7 linked regions of the Homo sapiens genome follow. The protein of the gene in region 4 purifies or fractionates together with the protein of the main gene of each other region. This does not show direct contact. Each region holds a gene or a part of one and is shown on either strand. Other genes may lie near its edges. The genes, in order: XPO4, TMEM9B, SYNPO2, IPO13, MOCS2, HK2 and PWP2.

The links.
Region 1: the proteins of IPO13 (region 4) and XPO4 fractionate together in Homo sapiens (co-fractionation; one large-scale study listed by BioGRID). This does not show direct contact.
Region 2: the proteins of IPO13 (region 4) and TMEM9B purify together in Homo sapiens (co-immunoprecipitation; one large-scale study listed by IntAct). This does not show direct contact.
Region 3: the proteins of IPO13 (region 4) and SYNPO2 purify together in Homo sapiens (affinity purification with western blotting; one study listed by BioGRID). This does not show direct contact.
Region 5: the proteins of IPO13 (region 4) and MOCS2 purify together in Homo sapiens (affinity purification with mass spectrometry; one large-scale study listed by BioGRID and IntAct). This does not show direct contact.
Region 6: the proteins of IPO13 (region 4) and HK2 purify together in Homo sapiens (affinity purification with mass spectrometry; one large-scale study listed by BioGRID and IntAct). This does not show direct contact.
Region 7: the proteins of IPO13 (region 4) and PWP2 fractionate together in Homo sapiens (co-fractionation; one large-scale study listed by BioGRID). This does not show direct contact.

The regions. Positions count from the first base shown.
Region 1 is NC_000013.11:20,896,247-20,899,746, forward strand, and holds part of XPO4 (exportin-4), read right to left. Parts: intron 1-3,500. UniProt on the Homo sapiens protein: Mediates the nuclear export of proteins (cargos), such as EIF5A, SMAD3 and isoform M2 of PKM (PKM2). In the nucleus binds cooperatively to its cargo and to the GTPase Ran in its active GTP-bound form.
Region 2 is NC_000011.10:8,954,443-8,957,942, reverse strand, and holds part of TMEM9B (transmembrane protein 9B isoform a precursor), read left to right. Parts: intron 1-1,644; coding exon 1,645-1,753; intron 1,754-3,500. UniProt on the Homo sapiens protein: Enhances production of pro-inflammatory cytokines induced by TNF, IL1B, and TLR ligands. Has a role in TNF activation of both the NF-kappaB and MAPK pathways.
Region 3 is NC_000004.12:119,028,354-119,031,853, reverse strand, and holds part of SYNPO2 (synaptopodin-2), read right to left. Parts: intron 2,010-3,500; coding exon 1-2,009. UniProt on the Homo sapiens protein: Has an actin-binding and actin-bundling activity. Can induce the formation of F-actin networks in an isoform-specific manner.
Region 4 is NC_000001.11:43,963,950-43,966,235, reverse strand, and holds part of IPO13 (importin-13), read right to left. Parts: intron 1,968-2,286; coding exon 1,915-1,967; intron 1-1,914. UniProt on the Homo sapiens protein: Functions in nuclear protein import as nuclear transport receptor. Serves as receptor for nuclear localization signals (NLS) in cargo substrates.
Region 5 is NC_000005.10:53,099,758-53,103,257, forward strand, and holds part of MOCS2 (molybdopterin synthase catalytic subunit large subunit MOCS2B), read right to left. Parts: intron 2,468-3,500; coding exon 2,340-2,467; intron 1,753-2,339; coding exon 1,602-1,752; intron 778-1,601; coding exon 654-777; intron 1-653. UniProt on the Homo sapiens protein: Catalytic subunit of the molybdopterin synthase complex, a complex that catalyzes the conversion of precursor Z into molybdopterin.
Region 6 is NC_000002.12:74,886,127-74,889,626, reverse strand, and holds part of HK2 (hexokinase-2), read right to left. Parts: intron 3,334-3,500; coding exon 3,234-3,333; intron 3,138-3,233; coding exon 2,954-3,137; intron 1,725-2,953; coding exon 1,569-1,724; intron 383-1,568; coding exon 149-382; intron 1-148. UniProt on the Homo sapiens protein: Catalyzes the phosphorylation of hexose, such as D-glucose and D-fructose, to hexose 6-phosphate (D-glucose 6-phosphate and D-fructose 6-phosphate, respectively).
Region 7 is NC_000021.9:44,106,122-44,110,198, reverse strand, and holds the start of PWP2 (periodic tryptophan protein 2 homolog), read right to left. Parts: upstream 2,801-4,077; 5' UTR 2,783-2,800; coding exon 2,765-2,782; intron 1,216-2,764; coding exon 1,103-1,215; intron 1-1,102. UniProt on the Homo sapiens protein: Part of the small subunit (SSU) processome, first precursor of the small eukaryotic ribosomal subunit.

The sequences.
Region 1 (3,500 bases), on a different chromosome or scaffold from region 4:
CAATTAATTTTTCTCCCACCTCAGAAAAGGGTGAGGAGGAAAGAGAGATTTTGATTGACATTATATTCAATTTAGAGATGAATGAGGGAGAAATTGCCACCTTAACCGGATTGACCTTTCAGACCAAGGAGCATAGCCTTCATTTAATTCAGCTCTTTTATATTCTGCAAATAAGCTGTATCATGTTCTTCACAAAAATGGTGCATGTTTCTTATCAGTGCCCTATAATTTATTTCTACAGTTTTTCTTTCTAACAGAATGGGATCTTTTTTCCAATTTTAAGCTGATCACTGCTGATATAAAGGAAATCTTGCAACCCATTTATTTTTCTTACATCTGGTCATCTTTCCAAAGAACTAATGGTTCCAACAGTCTTAGTTATTTTGCTTAAACTTTTTTTCCGAAATGTCATATCACCTGCAAATAATCATTTTTTGGCCTTTCTTTCCAATATCTGCACTTATTCCCATTTTTTGTATTACTGTATCAGTTAGACCCTCCAGAAGGTATTAAATAACAGTTATATTAGGACTCCCGTTTTACTTCTGAGGATATCATCATTTAATACATGGTTTCAGATAACTATTTGTTATCATATTGAGAATTCCCTTCAATTCCTAGTTTATCCAATTGTTTTAATCATAAAATGCTGTTAAATTTTAACAACTGCCTTTTAGGCATCTATGGATGATTTCAAATGCCTTTTTGCATTTCTTCTCTGGATCACTGGCTATGTTCCAATTAGTGTGACACAAGTCCAACTGCAAATACACATTTAATTGAACTGAATTTGAAACATAAATTTCCTATTAATTAGCTTTTTTGAGAAAAAGAATGCTGTGCCAGTTTTCTAATATCTAGTGCCACCGCAGGTACTACAAGACAGGGCTGAAATAAACAAAAATGCATACTTACTATAATGCATCTTTCAAATAAGAAAAGTAGGTTCAATTAATTAAAATTTTCATTTTTATGACGTGTACTGTGGTTACAAAAAAATAAAGGCAGTGTACCTTACACATTGAAGGTCTCAGGAAATATCTACTACATAAATGCTCAAATATTCCTCAAACTCACTGTATTTCCCCAAACTATATTCTCTCAGACTATATTCCCCAAAATATATATCTCCACCTGGGATATTGCTTATCAAACTAGAAAACTCTAATCTATTTTTCATGATTCAGCTTAAGGGTTACCTATTCCAAGAAGCCCTTTCTCAGTCCCTATCTCAGCCTGAGATAGATGTTTGTACCTACTTCTATTATAACTTTACCAACCAACATTTGCTAATATTTTTGCCTTTCTCCACTCCTTGAAAAGAAGGTGCTTCTTCTGTCTCCTCAGCATACACAGCATAGTGTCTAACATGCTGTGTTTCTATATACTGAAGAAATGTTCTAAAACAAATCAATGGCCAGAAATTGGATTCCAGATCCAAACTAGCTACATGACAACAGGCAAATCATTTGCCATCTCTGAATATCAGGTTTTCATATTTATTTATTTATTTATTCTATTTTTTTGAGACAGAGTCCCGCTCTACAGCCCAGGCTGGAGTGCAATGGCACAATCTCTGCAACCTCTGCCTCCTGGGGTCAAGTGATTCTCCTGCCTCAGCCTCCCAAGTAGCTGGGATTACGTTATAGGTATGCACCACCTCGCCCAGATAATTTTTGTATTTTTAGTAGAGTCATGGTTTCGCCATGTTGGCCAGGCTGGTCTCGAACTCCTGACCTCAGGTGATCCACCTACTTTGGCCTCCCAAAGTGCTAGGATTACAGGTGTGAGCCACCATGCCTGGCCAGGTTTTCTCATTTATAAGGTTTAGGAATATCTCATCCTATTTACTTCACAGGACTGATATGAGAATGAAGACAAAAATTTTTCTATAGGACTACAGATGTGCAAGTATTTTAGAAGATATTAACCAGATTCCACTATAATAAAATCTATGAAAACCAGTCATGAATCTCGTTTATTAAAGTTGGATTTACACTCACTAAATCCATCCTGGTTTAAAAACAAATGTATGGGCCGGGTGCGGTGGCTCACGCCTGTTAATCCCAGCACTTTGGGAGACCAAGGTGGGAGGATAACCTGAGGTCAGGAGTTCAAGACTAGCCTGGCCAACGTGTTGAAACCTCATCTCTACTAAAAATACAAAAATTACCCAGGCGTGGTGCCAGGTACCTGCAGTCTCAACTACTTGGGAGGCTGAGGCAGGACAATCACTTGAACCTGGGAGGCAGAGGTTACAGTGAGCTGAGATTGTGCCATTGCACTCCAGCCTGGGCAAGAGTAAGACTGTCTCAAAAGAAAAAGGAAAAAAAAAACCTATGAAAATTACTTTTCTATAATGTATCAGTTAATATGTGTGCTCTGCACTATCTTATATTATTGCTACACACAATCACTAAGGACAATCCAAAACAACCTAATGAAGACAGGGCAACAAAACCAAGCAAATTCAAGACAATAAATAAAGCGCTCTTTGGACTGCAAATGAATGTGGCATCAATACTATAAGAACACTAAACTTTTCAATAATGTTGTCTCTAAAATCAAAACACCTCCTACATTTTAGTATACAAGAGGATGTGCATAGGTCATACACAATTACCATACCATATCATGTAAGAAACTCACCTGGGCACAGTAGCTTACGCCTATAATTCCAGCACTTTAGGAGGCCAAGGCAAGAGTATCACTTGAGCTCAAGACCAGCCTGGGCAACACAGTGAGATCCTCTCTACAAAAAAATATTTTTAAAAAATTACCCATTCAAGGCTGCAGTGAGCCATGATCATGCCACTACACTCCAGCTGGGACAACAGAGACCCTGTCTCAAAAGAAAGGGAGGGGATCGGGGGGACTTAAGTATCAATGCACGGTTGATGTCCATGGGTGGAGGCGGTTCCTGGAACTAACCTCTCATGGACACCGAGGGACAACTGTACTACTTTATCTGGCAGCTTATCCAATAATCTAAATTGATTGAATATAGATGTACCATATTTAGACATTTTCCATCAAGTAATAAAATGTAACATTTATAGTATATGTTGACTAAGAACCAACATGGTTGAGTAAAAAAAGTAAAAAAAAAAAAAAAAGAGTAAAGGTTTTGAAAGGGGAGTCTGGTGATCTCAGCCTGGATCAGTTATATCATGAATTTGCTCTGTGACCTACCTTGGGCAAGTCACTTCTACCTCTTTGAACCTCAGTTTCCCCATCTGTAGCATAGAAGGGAGAATGCTTAGACTTGATTCTTATTTTTCAGTTTCTAGTCTCTCAGAGACGGTGATAAAAGCTCTAGACCCTATTACTAAAAATGTACATTTACACCAAAAAATTTGTTACAATTTCCTTTTGATATTCATCCTAGACTCCCTAAGACTTCTGTACCAAAAGATCTAAGATTCTTCTATGTTCTAAAATTCTATGCTGATTTCCATAAAACAACTATATGAGTTACCTAATGAAAAATTAAGCAAAAA
Region 2 (3,500 bases), on a different chromosome or scaffold from region 4:
TCAGGTGATCTTCCCGCCTCGGCCTCCCAAAGTGCTGGGATTACAGGCATGAGCCACTGCGCCCGGCTGAAATTAATTTTTAATTGACACAATAACTGTACGTATTTATGGGATACATAGTGATGTTTCAATTCATATAAGATATAGTGATTTGATCAGAATATTTAGCATCTCAGACATTTATCATTTCTTTGTGTTGAAAATATTCAAAATCCTCCTTCTAGCTATTTGAAACTATAATATATATTATTGTTGACTATAGTCATCCTACAGGGATATAGAACACTAGAACTTATTCCTCCCACCAAGCTGTAACTTTGTTTCCAAAAAGTACATTTTGGTGGGGAAAGAGAAGGAATCACTCTATAGAGTATTGGGTGTCCCCAAGAGAATGGGTAAGATAAGATAGGATGGTGTAGTAGAGTGCTTGAGGCAGCCAGGAATGCCTAACGAAGAGATGCCAAAAGGAAAGAAAATTGTCCAACAGCTGGCAGGAGGACAGGAAAGCTTTCCCTAATTTTGCTGAAGGTGATCAGAGTCATAGACTCTTAATAGTTGAGGAGAATAATAATTTAGTTATTGCTTAGAATTGACAGATTTCTAGGAAAAATCTGATAGCACTGTGTTTACACAAACCATAAATAATTAGCCTTGAAAATGGGGTTGGGGAAATAAGTAACATTCAACAAAAACACTCATCCCTTTGTTAGTTTTTATTTAGTTCTTTGGAATAACCAGTTTTTGTTTTAAAATATTTTAGTTATTCTATTTCTCCTTGCTTTTTCAGATTTGCTCATTAAGAAAAGTGATTGTTTCTTCCTGTGTGTGGCTTTGAGGGTTCAATTTTCAGAGTTTCAGAATTTACCACGCTGTTAAACGTGGTTAGTCATTCATACACCACACTGGCAGTTAAGAATGATGTTGGCTGGGCACGGTGGCTCACACCTGTAATCCCGGCACTTTAGGAGGCCAAGATAGGAGGATCACTTGAGGCCAGGTATTCAAGACAAGTTAGGTCAACAAACCAAGACCTGATCTCTACAACAAATCTAAAAATTAGCCAGGCATGGTGGCAGGCTCCTGTAATCATAGCTGCTCTGGAGGTTGAGGCAGGAGGATCACTTGAGCCCAGGAGTCTGAGGCTGCAGTGAGCTATGATGGCACCACTCCACTACAGCCCATGTGACAGAGCAAGACCTTGTCTCTTAAAAAACAACAACAAAAAAGAATGATGTTAATTCACAAAAGAGATAATCTTATATTTGAACAGTGCCCCATATCACTTTAAACCATTTTAAGTAGTTTTCCTTAGTAACTGAACAAGTCTAAAGGTGACTTGATTTGTTAAGTAGTTTTTCATCCCATTTGGGATTTTTTGTGTGCGTTTTTGTAACTGTTAACAGTAGCAGCTTTGAAAATAGACACTACTATATGTGTGACTTTGTGGCTTCTTAAATGGTTAAAACTTACCAAAATGCTAATATTGAGAGCAGAAATTATTTTACTTTATCTTATTGATTATTTGTTTTTTATGCTCTTTCATTGGGTAAGTTTAGTGATTATTCTAGATTTCAGGAAACTTTTGGTCAGAGCAAGCAGAAGAGCTAGCTGGGCTTAAGCAGCATTTTATCTTTGTTTTTTCAGTGATTGCCTTCATGTTGTGGAGCCCATGCCTGTGCGGGGGCCTGATGTAGAAGCATACTGTCTACGCTGTGAATGCAAATATGAAGAAAGAAGCTCTGTCACAATCAAGGTAAAATATATATCCCTCTATCTACCTGTCTGTCTGTCTGTCTACGTCTTTTCTGCTTCTGGATGGTTTCTAGACAAGACAGAAAAATTTGGACCCCTACCCCAAAAGGAATAATGGGCCTGTTCTGCCTGCCTCACTGACATGGTTTGTGGATTAGTTAGGGTATGTTAGATAGATATGTGAAATGGCACAAAAATGCCCTATGTGTAATTAGCATATTCCAGAAAGATATCCCAGCTTCTGTGTAGGCCATGTGTGCCAGAGGCTGAGAGAGCAGCATTTATAAGCCCTCCTCTCCTTGCCTTTCCAGCCCTTTGAAAAAATTAAATATATAGTAATTATTCTAGAACTATTACTTCTGGATTTTAAGATTTCCCCTCTTCATTTCCTGTAGGACAGTGGTCCCCAGCCCCCAGGCCACAGCCCAGTCTGTGGTCTGTTAGGAACTGGGCCACTCAGCAGGAGGTGAGCAGTGGGCAAGTGAGCAAAGCTTCATCTTATTTACAGCTGCTCCCCATCATTCGCATTACCACCTGAGCTCCACCTCCTGTCAGATGAGCAGCAGCATTAGATTCTCATAGGAGCATGAACTCTATTGTGGACTGCACATGTGAGGGATCTAGGCTGCATGCTCCTTATGAGAATGAGAATCTAATGCCTGATGATCTGTCACTGACTCCCATCACCCCCATATGGGACCGTCTAGTTGCAGGAAAACAAGCTCAGGGCTCCCACTGATTCTATGTTATGGTGAACTGTATAATTATTTCATTATATATTATAATGTAATAATAATAGAAATAAAGTGCACAATAAATGTAATGTGCTAGAATCATACCCAAACCATCCCCTACCACCCCTGGTCCATGAAAAAATTGTCTTCCATGAAACTGGTCCCGTCCCTGGTGCCAAAAAGGTTGTGGAGTATTGCTGTAGTAAATGGGATGTAGATCACTCTCATCACCATTTGTATTTCTAATGAGTTCAGTTACTTTATTATAGTGGCTAATGGTTTTTCTTCCAATTTTTTTTTTTTTTTGAGATGGAGTCTTGCTCTATTGCCCAGGCTGGAGTGCAGTGGTGTAATCTTGGCTCACTGCAACCTCCGCCTCCTGGGTCCAAGCGATTCTCCTGCCTCAGCCTCCTGAGTAGCTGGGATTACAGGCATGCACCACCACGCCCAGCTAATTTTTGTATTTTTAGTAGAGACAGGATTTCACCATGTTGGTCAGGCTGGTCTCGAACTCCTGACCTCGTGGTCCACCCATCTTGGCCTCCCAAAGTGCTGGGATTGCAGGTGTGAGCCACCGCGCCTGGCCTAATTTTTTTTTACATGGCACTTCCCATTCCTTTCCCCCCAAAAGGCCCTGTGGGGAATGTGGGGTGGTTAGTTATAATAGTCACAAACATTTCTGCTGTGATTGACCCTGTGGAAGAGCTCTTGCTCCAGCAGGGTGCTGAACTTTAGATAAATCCTCACTGTACTATTATTTAACAGATTTGTAAAAAATATACAACTTATGTACCCTAAAAGTCACTCACTATAAGTATACAATTCTATAAATTTTAGTAGATTTAAAACATTTTAAAATCCAGTTTCAGGCCAGGCATGGTGGCTCACATCTATAATCCCAGCACTTTGGAAGTCCGAGGCGGGTGGATCACTTGAGGTCAGGAGTTCGAGACCAGCCTGTCCAACGTGGTGAAACCCCATCTCTACTAAAAATATAAAAATTAGCCAGGTGTG
Region 3 (3,500 bases), on a different chromosome or scaffold from region 4:
CGAGTACACTGACGAAGCCTGCACATTCGTAGGTGAGGCAGCATTCACTGGCCGGGGAGGAAGAGCTTGCTTCATGGCCAGGGCTGAATTGACCTTGACTGATGACTTCTGGGGGAGGCCATCCTTTGCATCTGGAGGTTGGAAAGTAAACAAGGATGCATTGAGCTGATACGGTTGGTGCTTCATGACATCTAATGCATTGAGGGGTTTCTTTCCCTTTTTCTTGCCCATTTTGGAGGGCTGTGCAGCTGATGGCTGAGACTTGAGAGCAGCCAGTGGGTAAGACGGCGAGTGGATAGGATTATAGGCCACAGGAGGAGGTGCTCGGACATTGGAGGAGTACTTCCAACTGGCCGGGAGAGATGGAGTGGGAGACTGAGCTCGAGCAGCGTGGGCCTGCACCGTGTCTGAATCGACCACATACTTCTCCATTCTCGACTGCCTTTTAGCAAAGAGCTGAGCTCCTCTCCCACTCATTCCTGGAAGCTCATTGGATGGTCCCACTGCACCAGGCTGAACAGCATTGACTGTTGGTGTGGAAACTGTTGGTTTGGGTGTGTAATTCTGACTGGCTACTGCTGCTTGTGGTCCTTTGAAGGGACCAGCCACGTTCAAAGTACTTGCAGGCCGGGCAGGAGGGTAAGAAGGCTGGGCTATTTTGATGGAGGAGACAACGGTGCCCTTTGATGGGTTGGATGTGGGGAAGGCAGGAGGTTGGGTGGGAGCCACTCCTGGAGACCAGACTGGGGAAACTGGAGTTACTGGTTGGGAGGATGAGGACTTGACTGCAGGTTTTGGAGCAACAGGAGGAGGGGTCTTTTGTTTGGCAGAGGAGCTTTGCATGAAATTACAAGCCTCTGCCCCCAAGCTGAGGTAGTCTTCTTCCGGTCCGGAATCACCTCCAGCTCCAGTGCCCCGTTTGCCTTCTGAATTTTGAAGGAGTGACAAGAGTTCAGGATTTGGGCTTACTTTGGGCTCTTTAAAAGTAAACATGGGTTTTGTCGTGCTTCTCCTTTTGGCCTCCTGCAATATTCCTGTTCTTTTTGCTGGCACTGAGATCCTCTCATCTCGGGAAGCTATTCGCTCAGACGAATCGTAAAAGGCTGGCTGGGACCACGGGGCAGGCTGGGGCCATGGAGGGGGCTGTGCTGGGCCAGCAATCGGACTTGAAACCCCTCTGGAGAAGGCGTCAGGGGGAGGAGTGACTGCAGAGTAAGGTGGAGGTGCAGGAAAGTCAGCAATGGGACTCGTCATGTTTCGGGTTGGCGAGAAGGGGGTAGCTGGCTGATTCACAGACCCTGGGAAGGGTTTGGCCGTTCTATTCATGGGGACCATCCTCTGGATGTTTGCTGTCTCAGATGTCCCACTGAAGCCATTCTGTTGGGGAACATGGCCAAGACCATGACTCACCTCGATGTAGCTTTTGCTCACAGAGCTCTGCGTTCTTACCGACTCTTCCTCCTTTCTTTGGTAAGAAGTCGTGGTTCTCAGGCCATCGGTCTGGGCAGCATCTTGTTCTCTGCTTGGCGTTCCACCTACCTTGTCCTCTTCTTTTTGGGCTGTGATCTGATCCATTCTCTCCCTCCTCTTGGCAAACATGAGGGCTCCCTTGCCTGTGGTGTCTGGTAACATCTCCATCTTGTCCCCTCTGTTCAGTTTCTTTTCAATGTCCACCAGTCCAGAATCCCAGTCAAAGTTCACAACTTGTGTGTTGTCGTCAACGTCAGACAATAACTCTTCATCCACCTCTGATTCGCTTGCACCAAGAAATGCTACTTCACATGTATCCTCCTTGTCACCTTCTTCCTCCTCGTCCGCCTCTCGCTCAAGCTCGCCAGTACCGTAGCTAACTAGGGTGTATTTCCTGGCCCTCCGACGTCGCTTCTTAAACATCAACACCCCCTTGGAGTTGGGGTTGGGAGCATCCGTTAGAAGAAGGGCAATGCTTTTGCATTTAGATTTTGCTTCCTTCACTTGTTTTTCTGACAGGCTTTCACTCCTCCTGAGCCCTAGGGAAAGCAAAAAAAAAAAAATTATATTGAGCTGATGAGTTCAAGGAAGACACCACAGCAACTCAGAAATGAACTCTCCTGGGGGAAAATAAATATGTAAAAAATTGCCATTGAGTACAGAATTTTGAAGGAATCCAACACATTTCTTTTTCTTATTTCTCTTAACATGTTTCCTTCTACAATAATATACTGTTCTATTTGTTTACATAAAAATATTTTATATATGCTGATTAGAATATATGTTTCATACATTTGTTTCTCTAGAGATCCTTCCACTTTAATAATAAAAACTGGCTAGTAAATGTCAATTAATAGGATAAAATTAGAATTAAGAAGGACATAATTTAAAGACATAATATTTTCTGAAAAACAAGATGAGACATATCTCATACTTCCATATTTTAAAATAAAGTGTCAATATAAAACTGTTTCCAGGAATCTTAAAAAGGGAGGAGCGTCCCAAGAAGATGTTTTAAAATTTTCTAAATGTTTTAATGTAATGAATTTAGCTATTTAGGTTTTCTTCTTTCTCTTTTTTCTTTTTTTACCCTGACAACCACCCCAAATCTTTCCACTCACAGCTACTGGATTAATATAAATTCAAAACACTGAATTAATCATTGAAGGTACTGAATCAATAATTAAAATTCAAAATATGACATTATTGTAAATACATATAAGAAACTCTAGCTACAAAGTTTTCTAGACAGATTTGTTTGTAAATGTATTGCTATTTTGGAAATACAATATTACTTTCCTTGCAGCAAGAATAAACCTTGGAGAAATTTAAAAATTGACTTGTGACCCACTTAACTGTGTAAAAACTGATGCAGAAATTAAGTCATTTAAAACAAGAATATGATTTTTATTTTATAAAAATAAAAATATTTAAAATTTTCTTTCATTATTACTATTATAAAAAAGAAATGGGTGGCAAATTATAGCAACTAAACATATAGCATCTATCATTTATAATTTATAGTTATATCATATTTTCAATGATAATGACTGTGAGTCCCCTAAATTTTTTAATTCCTCAAAACAGTTAAGTGGAAAATTAAGAAAAAATTTTTGACTATTTTATGATTGAAAATTAGCTCTTTTTGTCACAGACTTAATGGTTAATTTTTTTTAAATAAAATATAATCCAAGGAAATAATTTTATAATATGATTACAGGCATTTACTGGTGATCGAATTTTCTAGAGAAAAATAGTTGAAACTGTGGTTATTACTAAATAGAATTCCTTTTTTGACTAGTGTTATACAACTTATTAAATTGACAGTCACAGTTGCACAGTTGCTGCTAACTTCACTGCCAACATGTAAAGTATGTGAATGGTGTCTCAATACTCTTGTTTAATATGCTATAAATGTGAAGATGGCCTACAGATGCTTAAAGTATAAGGAATGATTAACAGCACTTGCCAATAAAGCTACAAATGGTTATGCTAAAAATATGCTTTGAAAGGAATAACAATAGGTTAGA
Region 4 (2,286 bases):
TGACTTCATGTTGATTCACAGAGGGAGTTAAGCACCCCCAGTTTGTGAACAGGGTAGCAGGAAGAAGAGATGGCAGCCAGACAGGGAGCCCTCAGCCCAACAGCCCTCCTCCCATGTCCCTCCTGTATTCCTGAGGCACCCTCCAGCTCCTGCTCAAAAAGAAGAAAAGTACAGCAGGAGCCTTGGAGCCTCAGCCCCATCTTTCACCCAGGGTACCCTGTGTCCAGGCCCTCTTCGGCCATACACACACCAAGGAGCCAGTGCTGCTGTGGGTGAGGGGGAAGAGATGAAGTGAAGGGGGCAGATGGCCTGCCCCGAGTGGTACCAGGACATGACTGGCACATCCTCAGGTCACAGGAGATGCTCTGCACAGCTCCAGTCATCCTCAAACACTGCTGCTCCCCAGCAATGCCCCCAGTGCATACCACATAGACCTCTACCCTCCAGCCCCTCACATCCCCTCTACCCCCCATGTTTACTCATGTGCAAACACCCCCACATGCACCATCACTTGAAATGCCCTCCTTACACACTTCTCTAACACCGCTAACATACACACACTCTCCCCATCTGGAACACACCCTCATTACACAGTCATACACCAAACACCTGCACATCCCCAAACCATGTCCACACACCTACACCCTCAGCCTTCCCACAGTCCCCCTGTGCACTCTTCCAACATACCCATCCACAAATACACATTCAGACACCCTCCGCATCAAAGATACACCTTTGAAAACACCCACACACATATCCATCCAGGCCCAGAACACTCCCTATTCTTCCCTCCTCCCACCCTACCCATCCCCCAGAAACTAGACTTGTAAGTTCCAGGAGAGCAAGAACTGTGCCTGGTTTTGCTCGCTATCATATCCTCAGTACCTAGCAAAGTACAGCATGTATCACACACTCAATAAATATCTGTGGAATGATTAAGCAAAGAAACACTCCATTTACCCCAATTCACAGGTTAGGGGGTCTGCGTGCTAGGATCCCCTAACACACAGAAGCCCCCATCACACTAACTTCATACCCCCACAGCCCAACATGCATCTCCAAACCATACTCTGATACAGACATACCAATGCCACAACATACACTCCTATCCTCCATAATATACACTCCGACAACCCAACACACACACCTCCAACACACGTCCACGCTCTAAATCCATCAAGGCCTAACACATCAACAAACAACACAAAACACACAACACATCAACATACAGCACACATCAAGGCACACATTCATCTCAGCACCCAACACAATTCACATACTACTTACAGGTGATTTCTGTTCCCTTCCCAAACCAAACTCAAAACATACAAAATAAGGTCTCACACACTGAAACACATACAAAATGCAAACACATCCTAGCATGGAGCCTGCACTCCACCTCCTAGCAGCAGCTCAACCTCTCCAACAGCCCAACTCTGGGCTCCACCGCGCACATTCCTCTTCAGCCCCTCGCTTTGGAGCTGCTCCCAGCCTACCTCTCAGGAGCAGGCTGGGGGCACTGAGGCAGGCAGTTCCCGGCAGGAGCACGGGGACAGTGTACCCCAGACCCTTCAACTCCAGCCCTACACGTGAACTTCTTGGGCAACAAGAAGCTGCTGGGCGCAGTCACCACCCCCTCCCTTTCCCATTCCCCACCCGATGCCAGCCCAGCTCCCTCCGTTTGGGATCAGCCTCTCCCTGGTCTTTGTAGAAGACTGAGCTAGTGAGGCATAGGGGCACTAAAGGAGGATGTTGGGTTGTCAACTTCCACGGAAACAGATGAAGAAACTCTATTCAACTGAACAGAAAAAAAATTTGTCAACAGAAAGCTAAAAATAGGCTTAAATTGAATTTCAACATAAGAGAAAGAGAAAGAGAGAGAACAGAACGTGAATGAATAAAACTAAAACACACCTGTGCCAGGAGTTGCATAAATGAATCAACAATATCAGGATGATCCCTGGGCCCTAAAATATAATAAAGATGGAACTTAAGAAAAAATTATACAAACAGCAACTCAACCTCATATAGTTATGTGGGACTGAGAGCCTGCAGGGAGACAGCGTGGGGGCACATGAGCAGCAGGAAGCAAGATAAAGAAACAAAACATACAAAAACCATGAACTGGGAGAAGCCCAACAGAAAGAGACGGCAAAGTGAAGGACGGGCCTGCCCCAGCTCCCTCCAAGGGGCCTTCCGCCTACTCCCCACTCCTCCTCAGGCCATCCCCTCATGTTCCCTTGGTACTTGAGCAATTCTGGACTCCATATAGCTGAAGAAACGGCC
Region 5 (3,500 bases), on a different chromosome or scaffold from region 4:
ACCACAACGCTGTAGGCAATTCTAGACAATTCTAGACATTGAATGTGCAACCACAGAACAATCCCACTGTTAATGTTACTACACCAGGGGAGAAACTAGGGAGTTGGGCCTTTTCATCCCATCAGAATGCTCTATTTAACCAGAGAATTACTTGCCCTTATTGACAGAAAACATGCCAGAAGTTCCTATTTCTGTTTTTAAATCCACTCACTGCATTTTCTCAGAGGGAGCAATATCTCACCATTTTTTTTTCTTCCCTAAAAAGGACCTCTAGGAAAAGCCTCTTTCACTTTAAAGAATTTCTATTTTAGCCATTACCTAAATAGCTAATGCATTATTCTCACTCTCCAACAGAAAGACCCTCTAATTCAAGGGAATTATAATCCAAGGAAAATAACTTCATGTATGAACCCCTCCAACAGTCCAGACTAGGAATTCTCACTGTTATCACTCATTGAGGCTTACTGTGTGCCATGCATTCTTTGGGGCACATATTTTTCATGCTTAACAAATCTTGGAAAGAAGATATTTCACAGATAAAGAAAACAAGATACTACAGTCAGTAAAAAGTCCATAAATATGGGGGGATTTATCTAAAAATTCCTGAGAAAAATCAGGTCCACATGCTAAAATGTGTTATTTTCTTAACTTACCTTTTTCCATATGGGCACCTTGGCTTTTAAAGTATCAATGGCATAGCTCACAGCTTCAAGAGATGCAGCTCTGTGGGCTGAGGACACAGCAATGATTATGCTTGCTTCTGACACTGGAACCAAGCTTTAACAAGATGAAGAGAAAAAAAAATCACCATCATCTCTGAATCTACGTGTTAAAGAATCTGCTAGACAGATGAAAAAAAATCCAGGTATGCAGTCTTAGAATTATACTGTAGTTCTATTTTACGTAAACATACAGTTAGAAAAGAGTAATTAATTGCAGTAGCATTCAGCAGAGGCAGTAGATGAGGCTGATGCTACAGCTAATTTGTTAGAATCTATCCACTAAACCCTCCTGATGGGCACCAAGGAAAATCCTTTCATTGATAGAGCAAACATCTGACTCAACAAGGCACAGTGCCAAGTAATGCCTAGAAATACAAAGTTATGTCCTAACGAGTATAATACAAAATTTAAAATAATACATATCAAGTAATAGGAGTGATAATAACCATTAATAAAACTACTGGTTATTAATAACAAACTAGTAACTAACAGAGTATGATAGATACAGTCTCAATTACTGGCTTCTTTTTAAAGCCAAGAACTCTTCTCTTTTTAGGGGTACAAAAAGGCAAACCACTCTAATGACTTTCGAGGCATTTATATCAAAAAGAATCTGTCACAGATTGTCATAGGGCCTGCAAGTCTTGGCACAACTGCAGTTTGTTACAGCAACAGAGGCAACAAGAGCTCTCCCAATATCAAAACTCACTAGGCAGTCCCTAAAGGTACTAACAGCCATCCCTATTGTCCTCCAAAAATAATACATGAATATTCCTCTCATGGTAATATAGAATTACTAAGAAAGATTCAAGAATCAGAGTTAGTACAAAGATGGAAAACAATTACACTTAACTTTTAGAGTGATAAAGGAAATCATACCCAAGTCTATGGAACACTGCTATGTGTTTGACTGGCCATTTCTGCCTAATGTCACTACAAATCTTTCTGACTTCATTTTCCGCCATGGGTAGATATGCTTCATATTCTAAGCTAATGACTTTTTTCCCTTCAAAGTTATTTCTTGTAGTCCCTTTAAAAATGAAAAAAAAGAAAAAGAAAACAATTAAAATAAGGTTTTTCCCTACAAAAGAAATAGCACGTTAATAAAAAAGGAATATTTTTAATAGTAAATTAATAGTAAACAAGCAGCATACCAATTCTTCTAAAACTACTTTGAAATCTTCTAAAAACAAAATTTGATTAGGAAAATAAAACAGATCTTCACAAAGATGAGCACTGATTAAGCAAGCTTACTAAAAACACTCACCTGGCAAACCGGGCAATATTCCTCTTCTGACTAATAGATACTTAAAAGGAAAATATTTATGTTCCCAGGACTATCAAGTACATTTTTACCTTCAATTTTGGAAAATCTAGAATTCTCTCTCCTAACAATGACTTTTATCCTACTTTTCAAAATGCCTTGTAATTTAATATAGGTTAATTTGAAGGTTACTAAAACAAAACAAGAACTAAAAAAAAGTCTACCCACCATCATCGGTAATCTTGGTTTAAAGTTCAGTATTTCAAACTCCTCCGTTAACACTGAACATGGAAAGCACATGCTAATTTCTATTGTCTTATACAGTGATAGATGCAATGAAAATTACAACTCACCTACAAATAGGGATATTGCACCACAGAGCGGAGAAATCACCAACTGTGAGACTTCATCTACTGAAAGTTTCTCGGCAGTAAAGTTTATAACATCTTTAGATTTCTCTTCAACTTCATCCATATCTTTCCTAGAAATAATACATTAACAAACCTTAACAGAAGTCCTAGGGGTAAAACACTCAACAACTTATAGGCTCTTTCAATTTATATTTTTTTCTACATTATGTCGATGTAAAAGGAAGAGGCTGTGGCACAAAATATAGTTTACATGAGTCAAATCAAGGACAGTGGCCCAGGATGCTTCTAAGATACCTTGGGGAGTTCCTTTGGGGAGCACTCCCTCGGCCTTTGTTGCAAGCAGGTTTGTAAAGGCAAAGGGAACAAAAAGTGGGCTGATACAATGATACAAAGTTTCACCAAGAATTCTCACTGGCATACAGAGATAATGTTGATCACTGATTGGCTGTACACTGTTGAACTATAGGGTGGGTACAAGTTAGAGTGTCCAGCATATGGACTTTATGGTTTCTTAGCTTCAGCTAGTCTGCAGCCCTCATAATAAGTGGCTTCAAGGGACCAGTGGCTCACACCTGTAATCCCACCACTTTGGGAGGCCGAGGCGGGTGGATCATTTGGGGTCAGGAGTTTGAGACCAGCCTGGCCAACATGGTGAAACCCCGTCTCTACTAAAAATACAAAAATTAGCCAGGCGGTAGTGGCACACATCTATAATCCCAACTACTTGGGAGGCTGAGGCAGGAGAATTGCTTGAGCTTGGGAGGTGGAGGTTGCAGTGAGCTGAAACTGATCATGCCACTGCACTCCAGTCTGGGCGACAAAGTGATACCCCATCTCAAAAAAAAAAAAAGAAAAAAAAGGTAATGATGCAGCTTAATGGGGAGTGACATGACTGCCATTTCATTCCAGTGCCTTTCTGTGCCTCTTAATGTTTTATCTGACGGGCTCACATTCCTCAGATAAAAAGTTTCTTTTCTTTTTTTCCCCACCATTAAATGTGTTAGGAGGCATGATTTGATCTGAATGATAAAAATAAGCAAGTGTAAAAATTAACAAAACTCAATTATGTGTATAAATATTCATAATGAATCAGGCATGACATAAAAAGTAATCCATTATTAACATGATCACTAAAATATAATC
Region 6 (3,500 bases), on a different chromosome or scaffold from region 4:
GAATCTTTAAACTATAATCCATGTATTATATACACTATTTGGAATGGCTGATAATTCACTATAAAGTAACAAAGGAAAGAGAGAAAGAAAAGGGAAAGAACAAAGACAGAAAGAAGGTAGGCAGGGGGGGCTGGGATCAGGCACTCACTGAGGATGTAGCTTGTAGAGGGTCCCATCCACACCCACTGTCACTTTGAGAGCGTCCAGCCCACGGTTTTCTCGTATCCTGTCCACCACAGCGGCCATGCCTGCGCCACAGAGCTGGGCTGCCCGCCGGGCCACCACAGTGCACACCTCCTTAACAATGATGCTGTCGTCACAGGTGCTCTCAAGCCCTAAGTGTTGCAGGATGGCTCGGACTTGCAGCAGGGCCAGGCAGTCACTGGGGTGGGAGGGAGACAGCAAGTGTTCAGTCATGCACCAAGAAGGCTGGTAGCCTACCACACCAGGGCCTGAGTCCTTACAGGGGAGGCTCTGTGGGGGTCTAGCTCTCCAGGAGCTGGCCCCTCGAGGTGGTTCCCATTCCTAAATTCAGACCACTGCTCAACCTACTGCACTGCATTGACTCTTCCTGACGGTGACAGGAATACAAACAGCTCCTCATTCTACTCTCCCTACTCCAGATAGACCATTACTACTACAAAGTAGATACTCAAAACAAAGCAAATTCACTGTTTATCACAGTGGTCAGTTACAAAGCTCTTTCATGTCCATTTTCTCGCTGCTGTTCATGGGTTTGCAGGGCAGGAACTAACCAAGCAGCATTAGACTCGTGCTTTATTTCTGCTCTGCTGCTCTGGGTGGTCTGAACTGTATTTATATGCTATTTACGAAGGAAGTGTAAATAAAGTTATAGAAAGAAAATAAACCCTCCTATATAAAGAAAGCTATTTTAGAAGCCTGGAATCACCTCGCTGAACATAACAGACCTATAAGCTAGAATATATCTTTCTATTCACTGGTGCAGATGCCCGAGGGGTCTACTCACATCAGTTGTCTAGTTCCTGTTCTTCTCTGCCCTGAGAGTAATGGCACAGCATTAATTTTTAAAGGGCTCTGAAATTCACTGTTCTAATTTGGAGATTTTCCACCATTTGACTGTAGGAGGGAGGCTTTGCTCTAATGAGCCACTGTGTGGCATGTGTCTGCATTGCCTGACGTTCCAACCTTTACTCAATCCTGGCTGCCTGATTACTGCAGCCAGCAGTTAGGAAGGGCTTTCAAGCCAAGTGTGGATGCTTTAATAGGTTATCTTCCTCTGTGCGTTTCAATTTACATGCTATGAGCAGGTATCTTTCTACCTTTGATACATGGTCTAAAACCCAACAATATCACTTTGCATGACCTCAGGCCAGGCTTAGCACAAACTTTCATGAGAATGCTCTGTTTGCCCTTAAAATGACAACTGCCCATAATGTGCTTTTAGTAAACACTATAGACATGAATGTGTTTGCCACTAAACTGACTTTTGTATGAGTCATGCCCTGAGTTATGGAAATCCTTCAGTTTGTCTGCCAGTGAGAAAAAAGGACATGGCCCCCCTGCTACCCTGAGCCCTAAGCTCTCACCTCTCAATCTGAGACAAGAACTTGGTTTCAAAGATGCCCCTTGTCTTGAGCCGCTCTGAGATGCGGCCTCGGAAGAGTAGTCCACGCTTGGTGAAATCGATGAGAATGTTACGGACAATCTCACCCAGGTACATTCCACTGATCATTTTCTCGAACCTGCAATGCAAGTAACATTCATGGAGGTTAAGTAGGAAGGTGGAGGGATGTGTTGAGACAGGACAGGCCAGCTTAGTCACCCCCAGTGCATCAGCAGTGGCAGACAGGCAGACTCCCCTGATGGGAAAGGAATTGCTACTTGATTCACTTGGGCAGGATCCCTGGTGTCTTTGCATGCTAATTCACAACCTTCAGCAACACTGACCACAGTGCCCGAGGCCCGTGGGGCTCCTGGGGAAATAAGCCTTGGAAAGGAACCCACAGGGAAAGGAACTCATTTCCTTTCCAAGGCTTATTTCGAAATTTCAAGAAGCAACTCGAGAAGGAACACACCATAACCCCACTGGACTTCTCGGAGCAGGGGAGAATGCTGAGTCTTAATCTTTAACCTCACTAGGCATTCAGTATACATTCTCTTGGACCTAACCATCATTACTCAAGTAACTACTGCCAGCTGTAGGGCCCCCATCCTGGCCACTGGAACTAAACGTTATTATGCAGTGGCTTGAGGGTCTTTTGGTCCTGAATCCTGCCTTGAAAAAAAAACGAGGTCCCTAGTTTCAACCAATAGCCCATCACCACCCCATCTTATCTTGACCCAGCCTGCTTCCTTCATTAATGTTGCCTGCCTGGCCCCTAGAGGCATTTTAGTCTGTAACTTCTATTCTAGACACATGTTTTGCAAAGCGTATTCTGCAGGACTAGGGTGTTTGATTAATCTAGTTAGGAAACACTACAGACAACATCTTAATGAGAAGTGTGTTAGATCTTAAGCTATTGTCTCTTAGCTCAGACCCCGCTCCCCTACCATGCACAGGACCTTGTGACACTGGGGCTGGCCCCTTGCTCAATTCTGACAGTAGGTGGTGCTCGGCGCTGGAAGATGGAGGAGGGAGAGGATTTGCTCCTGTCTGCATCACCCAAGAGATGCTCTTCAGCCTGTCAGCAGCAGGTGCTTCAACTTTCTACTTGTTTCTCCTTAGAGTGCCAGACCTAGGGTCTAGTATTCTCCCACCTGTTCTCCTAGGCTTTTGGGTGGGAGATGCTTCTTACATTTACTAACTCAGAACTTTCCAGGTGCATTCGACAAGAAACCCTTTCCAAGAAAACCTCCTTTATTAACATCTCACGAGAACCGGCGTCCTGGGAGATGCCATTGTGGAAGCTCTGATCACTTGTTGCCATCCAGTCCTGGGATACACTTAACAGGGCCCCAGTTGGGTGCCTACCTCTGCTTGCCGGGGTTGAGTGAAAGCTCATCCACAGCCACATCAAATTCTGTGCGGAAGTCATCTAGGCATCCATTGTCCCCGAAGGCCCCCCATTCCATGTTCACACACATCCGCCCCTCTTCTCCTTCCACCAGTTCCACGTTGCGCATCTCCTCCATGTAGCAGGCATTGCTGCCCGTGCCTGCCAATCACAGGATACCAGGGCCTCACTCAGCACCAACCCCTCCACACCCAAGGCTGTGCATCCCCATGTGGAAAGGACAGTCTGGGTCCTTACCAACAATGAGGCCAACTTCACAGTGAGGGTCTTCAAAGCCACAGGTCATCATAGTTCCGACTGTGTCGTTCACCACAGCAACCACATCCAGGTCAAACTCCTGAGAGGGAAGAAGCAGATGCCCAGTTCACAGGTGAACCCCAATATTCTCCTTTCAGACAATTGCATGGGAGATTTACAGGTATATAAAATATATATCATACACCATGGCTGACCCTCTCATTCCATTCAGGTCTGTGCTTAAATGTCACCTCTTTGGTGAGACCC
Region 7 (4,077 bases), on a different chromosome or scaffold from region 4:
AGCTTTTTCTTTGCATTCACAACTTGCCTGTTTGGTGGCAGAGACCTGGCTTTTGGCCTATTTCAGCTTTTGACATGCCTTCCTCACTAAGCTGAGTCCCTTCTAGCTTCTGATTTCAGGTGAGAGTTGTGTGACTCTTCCTTTCACATGAACACGTAGTGGCCACTGTAGGCCATTATTAACTGGCCTAATTTCAGCATTGTTTGTGTCAGGGAATAGGGAGACCCAAGTAGAGGAAGAGAGACGTGGGGGGGTGGGGAACAGCCGGTCGGTGGAGCAGGCACAGCACACACAGTGCTTACCGATTAAGCTCGCTGTCTTACATGGGCACGGATCACGGCACCCCAGAACAATCACGATAGCAACAGCAAAGATGATCACAAATCACCCTCACAGGTATAATAAACTTTGAAATATCACAAAATTACCAAAATGTGACACAGAGACATGAAGTGAGCCCCCACTGCTGGAAAAATGGCACCGACCAACTTTCTCCAAGCAGTGTTTCCACACACCTTCGCTTCGTGGTAAAACAGCATCCGCACAGAGCCAGAGTGCAACAAAGTGAAGCAAAGTGCAACAGCACACAGGAAGAAACCGCTAAACCCCAGCGAATAAAACTGACCTCCGGCTGCAGAGCTGGAAGCTTTGGGCCTGCCCGTCCGACTGGTGAGGCCCAGTGGCAGCAGGGCTCCCGAGCAGGGGTCCAAGGTACCTTCAACTCCCCCAGCAGCCCTGGCCTTTCAGCCCTTAGGGGCCTTCCCTGATGGGGGAAGGGCTAACCCTGAGCTACACCTTTTCCCCCACCCACCCTTCACAGCACAGGGACAGGGTCCCTTCCCACAGAACGGAGCCAAGTGACACACCACTTTATGGGGCCTGGCTAAGGCACTACAACGAAGAACTGGGTCTGGCTGCCAATTTCCACAACTGATCTGCTGACCCTAGTCTGTCCTGTAGTCCTGTCCTGGGCTCCCTTAATTAACGGGTGCACCATTAAAAGGAAGGCACAGAAGACACTATCAGTTTTCATATGTTACTTAAAAAATGGTGATAATAGTAATCAGTATCACTATTATGAATACCACTTTCACATACTTACTTTTTAAGGTCAAATACAGTGACTCTATTGCCCACGGGACTGATAACTGAATTTCCATCGCAGGTAAAATTTAGGTTCCCACGCCGGTACACCGTACCCAGCAAATTTGAAAACTGTGAAGAAAACAAAATTGTCTTAACACAAAGAAAACAGTCGACTCCCAGAAAAGCACTAAGTGAGGCATCTGGGCAGAGAGATGGCATAGAGAACCCCACCTTGGGGGCCCGTTCACCTTTCCTGGGTAAGAGAGGAAGAAGTGAGCCTGATCCTCAGGAGACCAGAGGAGCCCGGGCGGCCCCAAGCTCCCACAGAGATGGGTAAGATGCCCCTGTGAGCACTGAGGAAGCCTCCCAAGACAGGAGGCGTCTGCCAGGTGAAGAGGGGCATGGAGCCCACACTTCACCAAGAAAAAAGCTGCAACAATGGAACAGCACCCCAAAAGTGCTTAGAACTCAGGGCTTCCAGAAGTGTGGTAAGCCAGCATCCTATTTACTAACTCACGAGCACGAGCGTTCACTGGAGACTGCCATGCGCACAGACACGCACACCTTATATTCTCTCTCTAGCAGGAGGGGGATGAGAAGTGTGGGAGCAGGGGCTACTTTAGACGGTGGTCACGGAGAGGCACCTGGAAGGGTCACCTGAGCTGGAATCTAAATGGGAAGGCACCAGCCAGGCCCTGAAGCTGTGAGTGGGCAGCGCCCTCAGGACCTCAGGGAGGAGCTTGGTCAGCAGAAGGACTTTAAGCGGCCAGGCAGGCTCCAAGGCACATTTTTTGCCACCTTGCAGTAGGAATGTGGAGCGGATGAAGTCCTGGCCTGTGAGGACGTGGATATGGTTTCTGGTTTGGTGCTGGGCACACAGCGGTGGCTCCACCAGCACAGGGGACACAGGAGCAGCACTCTGAGGGGCCAGTACCATGCCCAGTTTCGGACAGGACAAGTGTAGTACACGGTGGGCTCAGCAGCAGGCGGCCCGTGCAACCCTGGAAGCGCAACGGTCAGGGCCACTGTGGGAAACACAGGCGTCCCCATAACCGGCCAGCTGTAGCAAACGCTTCAGAGACCCCCAGGCCGGCTCCACGGCCCCCTCTTATTACCTGTCTCACCCGCCTCCTGCACTTCACATCTGGGACAAGTCTTCCCTGGCTCTCAAAGCTGAGGGCGTCCGCCTCAGGAATTCCCTCCGGCCTCGGGAAACAGAGCTCACACCTGGGTTCCCCGCCCTTCCGCTCACCTGGACGCTCGCTCGTTAGGGACCAGTCCCGGGCCCCGGGTCCCTGCTGTTCTCACCCCGCCTGCGCGCGCCCGCGTCCCCGCCCCGTCCCACCTCCTCATCCCTCCCGAGGGTGCTGTGCCCTCCCCGACTGCACCAACTCCAGCCTTTAGGTTGGGCCATACTCAGGTTAAAAATATCCCGGGACCCCGACAAATGTCCCTGTTCCCTCCGAGAAGCCGTCGGCGCCTCCGTCCCAGCTCTCCCAGGAGCCCCACCACAGCCCCGCGTCCCCGAGGCCACGGGCGCGCAGACAGCCGGCGACCCCCACGCGGCCAGACGCCGCAAAAGCAGACCACGCGCCCCCAGCCCGCCCGGAGCCAGCTCAGGCGCCGTCCACCGGAAGAGCCGCGCCGATCCAACAGACCGCCCGCCGCCCGCGCTCACCCGGTAAGCGAACTTCATCACGGCCGTCGCACGTGTGCCGCAGCTCAACCCGGCGGCCGCCCACAGAGACACTTCCCGGGGGTCCGCGCGGCACCGCCCACAGCACGCACTTCCGGGAAGCGACGGCGTGCACCGCCCACAGCGCGCGCGCCCGGGACGGGGTCGCGCACCACCGTCCGCAGCGGCCCAGGAGGCAGGAGGAGCTGCGTCGCCCTCGCCCCGCCCCGAGGCGGAGTTTGAACGCGAGGCCCAACCCCTCCCAAGGCGGGGGCCTTCTCCGGGCCCCGCCCACACCCCGGAGCCACACTGCAGGGCGCCTCTTAGGCGCGCTCCAGCGCTGGGCGCGCTCCGCACGGACGCCCAGCCTGGCACAGCAGCGTCCACAACATGAGAGCGCTGCACACCCAAATGTCTTCGTTCTTGTGAACTGTTGGGTAAGGAATTATGAATAAAGTCCCGAATGCTGGCCGGTGCGGTGGCTCACGCCTGGGAGACTGAGGCGGGTGGATGACCTGAGGTCAGCAGTTCGAGACTAGCCTGGCCAACATGGTGAAACATCATCTCTACTAAAGTATAAAAATGAGGCGCATGCCTGTAGTCCCAGCTACTCGGGAGGCTGAGGCAGGAGAATGGCTTGAACCTGGGAGGCGGAGGCTGCAGTGAGCCCAGATCGCGCCATTGCACTCCAGCCTAGGCAACAGAGCATGACTGTCTCAGAGAAAAAAAAAAAAAAAAAAAAAAAAATAATCCGAATGTTTCCCAAAAGGCAAATAATCTATGCCCAAGAGTCAGGAACAAGGACTAGGGAGATAAAACAATAAAATCTTCACATTACATACTGTTGTCACACCATGTCGCAGCAAAAGATCCAGTGCAAAATAGTTTCTTCTTAAAATGTGTATTTTCAGAATTACAATGCTTACATTTTAAAGTCTTAATACAATGGTTTTAATCTAACAATATATTACATAATATGAAAAATGACTTTTCATAGTAAACCATGAAAATGGAATACCTGCAGTGTCAAAGTCACCAACTTGTCACCTTTTCCAGTCACAGAATCCCAACACATTGTATTAATGATGACTGGGGGGGGTCTTACAGCCTGATGTATATAGGATGAATAAATGTAGAGAAAGGAGCATTTTCATGAAAAATAAAATTTAAAAACCAGGTAGGATTTATTTTAAAGAACACAGTTGAAAGTAAAACATTTACATCAGCCCAGTTTGCCCTTTTGTAAAAAGTAGTATAGCTTTTCATTTTATATACAAACCTGCAGTGTCTGATTTCATTTTAAAACTTAATTTTAA